Homo sapiens: one gene and its partners. The protein of the gene in region 2 interacts with the protein of the main gene of each other region in a biochemical or structural test. Each region holds a gene or a part of one and is shown on either strand. Other genes may lie near its edges. The genes, in order: PAPOLA, CPSF1 and TAF5.

Evidence for each region.
Region 1: the proteins of CPSF1 (region 2) and PAPOLA form a complex in vitro, tested with the Homo sapiens proteins (one study listed by BioGRID).
Region 3: the proteins of CPSF1 (region 2) and TAF5 form a complex in vitro, tested with the Homo sapiens proteins (one study listed by BioGRID).

What each region holds. Positions count from the first base shown.
Region 1 is NC_000014.9:96,561,321-96,565,072, forward strand, and holds part of PAPOLA (poly(A) polymerase alpha), read left to right. Parts: intron 1-1,498; coding exon 1,499-1,573; intron 1,574-3,634; coding exon 3,635-3,730; 3' UTR 3,731-3,752. UniProt on the Homo sapiens protein: Polymerase that creates the 3'-poly(A) tail of mRNA's. Also required for the endoribonucleolytic cleavage reaction at some polyadenylation sites.
Region 2 is NC_000008.11:144,402,718-144,406,469, reverse strand, and holds part of CPSF1 (cleavage and polyadenylation specificity factor subunit 1), read left to right. Parts: intron 1-636; exon of another isoform or gene 637-640; intron 641-1,174; exon of another isoform or gene 1,175-1,305; intron 1,306-3,479; exon of another isoform or gene 3,480-3,603; intron 3,604-3,752. UniProt on the Homo sapiens protein: Component of the cleavage and polyadenylation specificity factor (CPSF) complex that plays a key role in pre-mRNA 3'-end formation, recognizing the AAUAAA signal sequence and interacting with poly(A) polymerase and other factors to bring about cleavage and poly(A) addition.
Region 3 is NC_000010.11:103,384,837-103,388,588, reverse strand, and holds part of TAF5 (transcription initiation factor TFIID subunit 5), read right to left. Parts: intron 3,264-3,752; coding exon 3,099-3,263; intron 1,415-3,098; coding exon 1,237-1,414; intron 1,069-1,236; coding exon 891-1,068; intron 584-890; coding exon 366-583; 3' UTR 1-365. UniProt on the Homo sapiens protein: The TFIID basal transcription factor complex plays a major role in the initiation of RNA polymerase II (Pol II)-dependent transcription.

The DNA of each region.
Region 1 (3,752 bases), on a different chromosome or scaffold from region 2:
TGTGGAAAAATTGGAAATTCTCCCCCTTCTCCCAAATTATCCAGATTTCTATGATGGATATTTTAACAAAACTCTCTTAGGTTTTGTGTGTGCCCTCATAATGCCCTTGCTTTATAATTTTGATTCACTTTGTAAACCAAGAAAAAAGTATGTGTATCATTATGTAATCTACAAAATTATTAATGGCTTCATAGAATGCTGTCTTAAGGCTATGATTATTTTTATCCAACCAATTTCCTATCCATAGCAATTATTTCCATTTAAAAAAGAAAGTTGTGCTTTCCTGCTGTAATATTGGTTACAGCTAAATACCATATCTGCCATTCATTCATGTTTATTTACTTAGCATAAATTAATGGAAGAAGAATTATTGAGGAAAATAGTATGCTTTATCTTAAAGTTTGGTATACATCACCAAGTTGTCCTCCAGGAAGGCTGCATGTCTTCCATTCCTACTTCTTACATCTTATTTACCTTTTTTAATTTCATAGGAGAAAACAATATTTCGTTTTTTTTTTTTTTGGTATAGTTTCATTGAAATTGAAGTTTTTATATTTTTCTTTTCTTCTTTGTCCTTTTTTTGGTTTTTTTTGAGATGGAGTCTTGCTCTGTCGCCCAGGCTGGAGTGCAGTGGGACAATCTCGGCTCACTGCAACCTCTGCCTCCTAGGTTCAAGCAATTCTTCTGCCTCAGCCTCCCGAGTAGTGGGGATTACAGGCACCCGCCACCATGCCTGGCTAATTTTGTATTTTTAGTAGAGATGGGGTTTCACCATGTTGGCCAGGCTGGTCTTGAACTCCTGATGTCATGATCTCCCCACCTCGGCCTCCCAAAGTGCTAGGATTACAGGTGTGAGCCACCACGTCTGGCCTATATTTTTATTTTCATTTATTTGTGTAGATATTATTTTCTTTTGTGTACTGCTTTTAAAAAGTTTAGAGTGATGGCATGACATACTTTACCCTGTGTTTTCTGATGAGTAGAATCAGTGCACTGATTACTAGAGAGGGGTGAAGAGACCATAAGGAGGGAGAAATCTTTTTTAGACATATTTTCTACTTTTAATTAAAGGTGTGAGGTTATTTTATTTAGTAGTATTGAATAAGTTTTTTTTTTTTTTTTTCCTCCCACAAAGCTAAGAACTGTCCTTGGGTTTATGCTCTGTTATTGTCTGGGCAACATTTCATGATGTGCCTATGTGTGTTTTTAATTATTGTTTGCTTAAAATGTCCCAAGTTGGAGCTGGTTGGAAAGTCATGAGCTAGTTTGACCCATGCCTTATAAGATTTAAGTAGGCAAATAGAAATTTATTAATATCTGAAATGGTGAAATAACCTACAACATCTACTGACTAGATGTTTTTGTAATGTAGTCACATCTTTCTCTTGATCCCTCCTGTCTTCCAGTTTGTCTTCTTTATTAGCCACCAAACCCAGTTATGTTCTTTTATTCTTTTTTAAGTCTCTTTTCCCCCTTCCCCATCCTCTTTGTCTCACAGGAACAACTTGATACAGAGACAAGTACAACTCAATCAGAAACTATTCAGACAGCGGCTTCTCTGTTGGCCTCTCAGGTACTAAGTGCAAAAAGCAAGGAGAATTTTGTAAATGTCCTTAAGATTAGTGTGGTATATTGAATTAAAGTGAGAGTTCATAGAAGACTATTAAAATTAATCTTTCTGAAAGTAATTACTTGCTAGCCTATAAACGTATTTATTGTAGTTTTAAGGCAGGGCCCTGGATTTGACGGAACCGTTCTCTGGGACTGTTTCGATGTTAACCCATCCCCTTATATTAATATATTATTTGATACTGCAAATCATTTAAATTCTCACTAGTCATTTACACAGGGTTCATATGTAGGTTTTATTTGTAGGTCAAAAGTGAAATTAAAACTAGGAATGAACTAAAAAACATTCTTCGTGGATTTCTTTTGCAAAGGCTAATATATTTTTATTTTAAAAATGTATTTCTGCCTTATTTTTCCACTACTGATTTCAGTTAGTTATTTAATATAGCCCATAGCTCTTCAGAATTATGTTTTCATTTGTCCTAGCAATTCTACTTGTGACAGACCCTCACATACAGAATACAGTAGGCATCTGGAATCTTTTTTCATTGATTTGTGAACCTTCATTTTGTTGAATAATTTTTTTCTTGAATCCTTTCACATGAATGAACCCTAACATCTAGCTCAAATTCTGACACAAAGTAGATATATTCTTTAATAGATGATAAAACTGGTTAATGTCTACAAAGTAACTGAGATAACAACTGCTGCTGTACTGATATGATACTATGTACTATGATGATATTTTGCTGCTCCTGTGCAGCTCCGAGTTATTTTAACGTGATCATTTAAACATGTGCTTTTGCTAGATGTTAACTTTTATTGACTCTAAAGATATATAAATATTATGTTTAGTTTCTGAAATACCTTTTCCATAATCTAATAAAACTTTAGGGGGAGTAACTAACATCAGGAAGTATGCTTAATATTGATACGTGGACAAACTTGTTTATCAGTCTTAAACTGTCCTGTGATTGTGATTGCATGTTTTTTGGTTTGCCACATACTCTCGGGACTTATTTTCATAGTTTTGTCTTACTGAATTTATCCCTATAGTAATTAGTACCCATGGGTATTTGCCTTTTAGATATTTTTATGAGTGAGTAGAATTTTCTTTCTAATGAAAGGATTCATAGAGCCATAGAGAGAAAAATCACCCAGTTATGTAAGAAGAATGATTATGTTGATTTAAAAAAAAATTCATTCCTATCTTTGGTAATGTTAGGGGCGTACTTATTTCTGGGGAGGTGATAATATTGTGGCTATACCTAATAAAGAGTTCTTATTGTTTTGAGATAAATCTGGAAATATTTATAGATGAAATGATAAGATCTCTAGGATTTGCTTCAGAATAACACAAGGTGAATTGAAAGTGGGAGGACAGTGGCTTTGATTTGATAATTGATGAAGCTGGGTAATGAATACATGGGGATGCATTATACAGTGCTCTCTACTTTGTGTATGTTTGGAATTTTCCATAATAAAACTTTTAAAGATCCATCTCTGTATTTTTTTAGTGTTAAAGAACGCTTGTGATTTAATCTAATTAATATGAAAATAATCTACCTAAAATTTAGGATGATTAAATTATTGCTTAGCTGTATATATTTGTTTAATTTACAGTGTCAGAAAATAATAAATTTACTGCTGCTTCTGTATATAAAATGAGCTTTGAGTATTCTCCCACTTGGGGGTGCTCCAATACTAGTTAATATTACAGCTATTAGTGTTGTAATAAGTGAATACAGTTTAGCAGTAACTTAAGCATTATATGATAGGTGATTCTTAGAGGAACAATTTTAAAAACTATTTGAAATTACTTAGGAGTTTTTAAAATATTATTAAAATATACCTATTTGAAAATTCCTTTGTTGAACACATTATTTGTTGAACAAATAATGTGATAGGCATATTTACATTCCATTTTGACAACATTATAGAGTTTTTAAATTTGTAATACTTTTCTTCTTAGAAGGTTTCTTAGGAAGTAAAGCAATGGAAAATACATCTCATTGTTAAATTATGGTGCTTTGAACAATGTTGTGTTCTTTGCTTTCATTCTCAGAAAACATCCAGTACAGACCTTTCTGATATCCCTGCTCTCCCTGCAAATCCTATTCCTGTTATCAAGAATTCAATAAAACTGAGATTGAATCGGTAAAAACAACCTCAGGGGTCCATAA
Region 2 (3,752 bases):
GTGGCATGGCCTGGAAGGCAGGGGGAAAGCTGGACAGGGCCCTGGAGGCCCAGGGAAGGCAGCTGGGAGGGACTCGACACTGGGTCCCACGCTGTTGAGCCTCAGGTGATGCCTGGTGACTGACAGGGCAGTCTGGTGGGCACGAGGGGTTGTGGTCTGAATGGAGCAGGGGTAAGAGCCCAGCAGGGGAGGAGAGTCAGTAACAGTGAACACAGACAACTCTGGAGGAGATGTGCGTAAACTGAAGCAAGAAATGGAGCCATAAATAGCAGGAAAAGAGGTTTTCTTCTTCTGTTTTGTTTTTTGTTTTTAAGAAACGGGGTCTTGCTATGTTGTCCAGGCTGGCCTCGAACTCCTGTGCTCAAGCCATCCTCCTGGGGTCAGTCTAGTCGTGGCTCTGTAACTAACTGCCCTGGAATATGCAAACGAGGTCTTTTATCATAATCGCAGACCTGGAAGCCAGGTTTTCAGGGATTCATCAGAGTGTGGGGAGCCCTTGGCTCTCCTCCACCAGGGCAAGCCTTGACAGGGATGACTTGAAGAGCTGGGGACAGGCTAGATGTGTCTTCCCCTACCCCCACACCGTCCCTCCACTCTCCCCTGTCCCCAGCATGGCTAGCTTGGTTTTCCTGGCAGCATGGTGGTGTTGGTGTAGTTGAGCTTCTTGCAGGAACTCAGAGCCCTAGGAGGCTAAGGCAGAAGCTGCCAGTCACTTTAAGGGCTAGACCAGGAGGGCACCGTCCCTGCCACCACAGTCTGCCCTAAAGGCAGCCTCCAGCCCAGATTCACCTGGAGAGGGAGGGAGACAGCCACCTTTCATACAGCTGTCTTTTTTTTTTCTTTTTTGAGAGAGAGTCTCCCTCTGTCACCCAGGATAGAGTGCAACAGTGCGATCTCAGCTCACTGCAACCTCTGCCTCCCGGGTTCAAGCAGTTCTCCTGCCTCAACCTCCCGAGTAGCTGGGATTACAGGCGCCTGCCACCACACCCAGCTAATTTTTTGTATTTTTGGTAGAGATGGGGTTTCACCATGTTGGCCAGGCTGGTCTCGAACTCCTGACCTCAAGTGATCCACCCGCCTTGGCCTTCCAAAGTGCTGGGATTACAGGTGTGAGCCACGGAGCCCGGCCAAGACATTCCCAGGTGTTTAGATGAGACATTTGTATTTTTGACAGGAACACCACAGAAGAGGCAAACAGCAGCCCCATCAGCTTTCAGGAGGCGGCGGAGGCCTTTGCCTCATGACTGGATGCTGATGCTTTGATGCTTGGTTGGGTAGTGTTGGCCTGGATTCCCCCACTGTAAGGTTATTTCTTCCTTTTGTAACTAAAAGTATCTTGTAGGGACTTATTTTGAAACCCTGTAAACGTCCTCTTATTCAGATTTTCAAGGTTTTTTTTTCTTTCTTTCTTTCTCTTTTTTTTTTTAGACGGAGTCTCGCTCTATCACCCAGGCTGGAGTGCAGTGGCACAATCTCGGCTCACTGCAAGCTCCACCTCCTGGGTTCAAGCGATTCCCCTGCCTCAGCCTCCTGAGTAGCTGGGACTACAGGCGCCCGACTAATGTTTTTGTATTTTTAGTAGAGACGGGGTTTCACCGTGTTAGCCAGGATGGTCTCGATCGCCTGACCCCGTGATCCGCTTGCCTCAGCCTCCCAAAGTGCTGGGATTACAGGCGTGAGCCACCACGCCCAGCCTTTGGTCGCTATTTCTTTAGCTATTGATTCTGTCCCCTTTCCCCCAACATGCCAGTTAGACCATTTGACTATGTACACATTTTTCTTAAAATCCTTCTGAGTGGTGGCCGGGCGCAGTGGCTCACGCCTGTAATCCCAGCACTTTGGCAGGCCGAGGTGGGTGGATTGCCTGAGCTCAGGAGTTCAAGACCAGCCTGTCCAAGATGGTGAAACCCCGAGTCTACTAAAATACAAAAAAAAAAAAAATTAGGCGTGGTGGTGGGCGCTTGTAGTCCCAGCTACTCGGTAAGCTGAGGCAGGAGAATGGCTTGAACCTGGGAGGCAGAGCTTGCAGTAAGCCAAGATTGTGCCACTGCACTCTAGCCTGGCGACAGAGCAAGACTCCGTCTCAAAAAAAAAAAAAATTCTTCTGAGTGGTTACCCCTGTTTCTTGCATGTACACAGAAGTGCAGTTGATCTCTGTATATTGACCTTATACTTGGCAGAGTGGATCAGGCGTCCTTGGCTGGTCCTGACCAAGAGGGAAAACTTCTTTTTTTGTTTGTTTTTTTGAGACCAAGTCTCTCTCTTGTCCCCCAGGCTGGAGTGCAATGGCATGATCTTGGCTCACTGCAACCTCCGCCTCCCGGATTCAAGCGATTCTCCTGCCTTAGCCTCCTGAGTAGCTGGGACTACAGGCACCTGCCACCACACCCAGCTAATTTTTGTATTTTTAGTAGAGACGGGATTTCACTATGTCACCATGTTGGCTAGACTGGTCTCGAACTCCTTACCTCAGGTGATCCACCCACCTCGGCCTCCCAAAGTGCTGGGATTACAGGCGTGAGCCACTGTGCCCGGCCTCAAAAGGGAAAACTTGTAATGTTTCACTCCCAGCACCACATTGCTGTAGACTTTTTGTAGATACCCTTTATTTGATTAAGGAAGTTGGGCGCGGTGGCTCATGTCTATAATCCTTGCACTTTGGGAGGCCAAGGTGGGTGGATCACCTGAGGTCAGGGGTTCGAGACCATCCTGGCCAACATGGCAAAACCCTATCTATTAAAAATACAAAAATAGCCGGGCATGGTAGCACATGCCTGTAATCCCAGCTACTTGGGAGGCTGAGGCAGGAGAATTGCTTGAACCCAGGAGGCAGAGGTTGCAGGGAGCTGAGATCACACTACTGCCCTCCAGCCTGGGTGACAGAGTGAGACTCTGTCTCAAAATTTAAAAAAATAAATAAATTAGTCAGGTGTGGTGACTCACATGTGGTCCCAGCTACTCAGGAGGCTGAGGTGGGAGGATCACCTAAGCCCAGGAGGTCGAGGCTGCAGTGAAACATGATTGCTCCTCTGCACTCCAACCTGGGAGACAGTGAGGCCCTATGTCAAAAAACAAAGGCCTGGCGTGGTGGCTCATGCCTGTAATCCCAGCGCTTTGAGAGGCCGAGGTGAGTGTATCGCTTGAGGTCAGGGGTTGAAGACCAGCCTGGCCATGGCAAAACCCTGTCTGTACTAAAAATACAAAAATTAGCTGGACGTGGTGGTGGGCGCCTATAATCCCAGCTACTGAGGAGGCTGAGACAGGAGAATCGCTTGAACCTGGAAGGCAGAGGTTGCAGTGAGCCAAAATCACACCATTGCACTCCAGCCTGGGCAACAAAGTGAGACTCCATCTCAAAAAAAAAAAAAAAATTTTCCTCCTATTTTTGCTTTACTAGGAGTTTTTATCACGAATGCCTTTATCAGATGCTTTTTTTGTATCCACTAAAATGACATGATTTTTCTCCTTAATTTTGACAGCATGGTAAGTTTAGCGATGGCTGTTCTTGCGGAAATCTAGTTTTGCGTTCCTGGAATAACTCAACCCAGTTGTGTTACAATACCCCTGCTTGTCACTGGGCTCATCTGCAGGCGTTTTGAGGAGGTTGGTGTCACTTCCTGTCCCACCTGTCTGTGGGCTGTTGGGGTGGCCTGAGCCACCTGCGGTGCCGTCAGCCCCACATGAGTGGGTGTGTGTTTTTTTTTTAAGTGTGTCATTACTTCTGAAACCTTTGGTAGAATTTGCGGGTGAAG
Region 3 (3,752 bases), on a different chromosome or scaffold from region 2:
AGATGATAGTATATTTCTGAATTTGAATCTTGAAGCAGGATGAATTATTGAAATCAACTTTTTTTCTAAATGTAATAAATTAAAATAGCATTTGAACAGAAAATGCATAGTTTCCACACAATCCAAAGCACCATAAATGTCCCCTCCATGATCATAATACCTCTTATTCAACTAACGGAAATTAGTCAAATGTGGTTGCTATAGAAACGTGGAACTGTCCTGTTCAGATTTTTCCAAGCAGCATACTTCCAGATCCATATAGACAAAAACATTCTCTGTAGCTTAAATATTAATCACTGAGGTATTTGCTTTTAGTCTCCCTTTTTAAAAACAGTAGCTTCCAAAAGGTCTTTAATACCGATGGTTTATTGTGGACTATAAGCTCCTGCAGCTAGAACCAGGTTTCTTCGAGTAAAATGAAGGTGTACAACTGGTGTTGATTTGGTCATATATGTTCCCAACAATAACTCCTGTGAATTCTCAGGTAAATTTATATGCCCAGTGGCTGTAGTAAAGTCATCGGTCTCTAAATCTTCAAAGGCTTTGATAGCATCCCATAATCGAACTGTATTATCCATTGAACCTAAGGGGAAGTCAAAGGAAACCATTAGTTGCATCCATCATATTTACATTCGGACATTTTGTCCACTACACTATGTATTTACTGTACATTTTGGGTGAAAAATCTAAACTTGACCAATAACTCTATTCCTTCCTAAGGAGCATTATCAAGCAGTACTTTAACCTGAGAAGTGATTGATGTAGGATGACACTCTGGAATCATAGCTAAAGGGAAGTAAAACCTAAAACATAAGGACTTAGTATTGCAGTCGTCAACACTGTTTCCTCTTAACATAGCATTTATCGTAAAGCCATTAATAGTCATTTACCTGATGCCAAAATTTCACCATCTCTACTAAACCTAAGTGAACAGACTGTATCAGTGTGGCCTTTTAATTCTCCAACCATCAAACCATGTCCAATATCCCAAAGAAGCACTCTGCCATCTGTTGCTCCTGTAGCCAGGAATCTCCCATTGGGAGAAAATGTCAAGGAATGAATTGGTCCCTAGAAAAAAGTTCATAGAAAAGATCAAAGTATGTCTAGGAAAATAAGACAAAATTTTAAAGTTTTGTAGTAAGAATGGTATCTTTAAAATTTATGTGTCACTTGTTTAAAAAATATTTTTATTTTGAAAGCAACCTTGGATGCTGGAATAGTAAGAGTGTAAAATACCTTGTGTCCAGTGAAGATCCTTACACAGTTACCATTCAGGACGTCCCAGAGCCGCACAGTTCTGTCTGCAGAGCCCGTAGCAACATAATTAGAATTTGGATGGAATCTGGTACAATTCACATCAGCAAGATGGCCGGCAAATATTCTTAAAGGCTGATAGTGGTCTGTAGCCCAGAGCCTTTTATAAAGTTATTGAAAGCAAAAGATGACAATTAGTAGATAGCTGTGAAACGCCAAAAATCTATACAAAATAAATACAGAAACATCCACATAAAAAGTTAGTTCTGAGTGGGCCCCCCACTTACTAGTTAACTGAGGGGAAGAAAAATGAGACTCACAGTCCTAAGAGTTCATCTGGTACAATTTTTTTTTTTTTTTAAGCTGAGGTCTTGCCAGGCATGGGGGCTCACGCTTACACTTCTAGCACTTTGGGAGGCCGAGGCATGCAGATCACGAGGTCAGGAGTTCGAGACCAGCCTGACCAACATGGTGAAACACCGTCTTTACTAAAAATACAAAAAATTAGCTGGGCATGGTGGCGCACGCCTGTAATCCCAGCTACTCAGGAAGCTGAGGCAGGAGAATTGCTTGAACCCAGGAGGTAGAGGTTGCAGTGAGCCGAGATGGCGACACTGCACTCCAGCCTGGGTAACAGAGCGAGACTCTGTCTCAAAAAAAAAAAAAAAAATGCTGAGGTCTTGCTCTGTTGCCCAAGCTGGATTCAAACTCGGTTCCAGCAATCCTCCCACCTCAGCCTCCCCAGTAGCTGGGACTATAGGCGTGTACCACTGTAGCCAGCCAAAACTTAAGTTCTAGAACTCCAATTCTCTGTATATTCTTCCTCCTCTATTCCTAGTCTAAACCACAGAAAAGTATTTTCCCCTAGTTCTGGCCACCAAATAGTTGTTTTGTTTTGAGACAGTCTCACTCTGTCATCCAGGCTAGAATGCCGTGGTGCAATCTCGGCTCACTGCAACCTCTGCCTCCTGGGTTCAAGCAATTCTGCCTCAGCCTCCTGAGTAGCTGGGACTACAGGCACGTGCCACCACACCCGGCTAATTTTTGTTTTTTTTTTCAGTAGAGACGGGGTTTCGTCATGTTGGCCAGGCTGGTCTGGAACTTCTGGCCTCAAGTTATCTGCCCTCCTTGGCCTCCCAAAGTGCTGGGATTACAGGCGTGAGCCACTGCACCTGGCCAAATAGTTTCTAACCTGAACTACCTTATCCTCAACTTCTAAGCAGATGACAGAGAAACATAAAGGTGCTCACAGTGGTATGGAAGACAAGGTTAAGTATCTGATGGGGTTGGGAGGGAGGATTGTTAATTAACTATTTTTTAAAAACCAGGATTCATATAGATGTAATTGCAGATATAATAATACTCCTGCCCCAATTTCTTTTCTTTTTTTTTTTTTTTTTTTTTTTTTTGAGATGAAGTCTCGCTCTTGTCCCCTAGGCTGGAGTGCAATGGTGCGATCTCGGCTCACTGCAACCTCCGCCTCTCAGGTTCAAATGATTCTCCTGCCTCAGCCTCCTGAATAGCTGGGATTACAGGTGCCTACCACCACGCCCGGCTAATTTTTGTATTTTTAGTAGAGACGGGGTTCCACCATGTTGGCCAGGCTGGTCTCAAACTCTTGACCTCAGGTGATCCATCCACCTCGGCCTCCCAAAGTGCTGGGATTACAGGCATAAGCCACTGCGCCCGGCCCCAATTTCAAATAAGTTATAAATGCAAAAGCTTCTCAGAAAGTTGAACCTCAATAATGGAAGTGTAAATGAATTTGGCTGGCTGTGTAATTCCCAACAAGAAACCATTCTGTTCATTGAATAGACCCAGTCATAAGATCACAGTGTTCTTACCGAGCTACTCGGTCATGGCCCCCTGACACAAAATAATATCCATATGGAGAAAATTGTGTGTCCCATACTGGATAGTTGTGTCCTTTATATCCCACCAAACAAGTAAATGTTTGAAGGCTCCACAATCTAACAGTTCCGTCCTCTGAAGAGGAAAGCAGATAGTTCCTGAGAGAAGAGAAGGTGATATATTTGACTCCCAGAGTAACCTTTGGTCACCTGCCCAGTTTTATATACATTTGAATACATTTAATATTTTATATATATTTGACTATATTAAATATACCTAACATGCTGCATCTCACTTTTAATTCATACACGCAATTCACAGTAGGTATCAATTGAAAGAACTAACCAAACTAATGTTAACCCTGACACTCTACATATACCGAGCACCTACTGAATGAGGTAATATGATACAAAAACTTAGGGAAAATCAGAGTTCTTTACAAGAAAAAAATAGCAGGGGTAATTAACAAAGTATAGTCAAATAAGGTCAATTGAGAAAGTTTAAGAAATGTGATATGTCACTTAAAACTCAACAATTTTTGACCCTAAAATAAAGATGCTATTTTCCCATGCTGTGTAAGCTATGTAAGAATTAAAAAGGAAATGTCTTTTGAAGAAAAAGAAAAAAAAACTACAGACATGCTAATA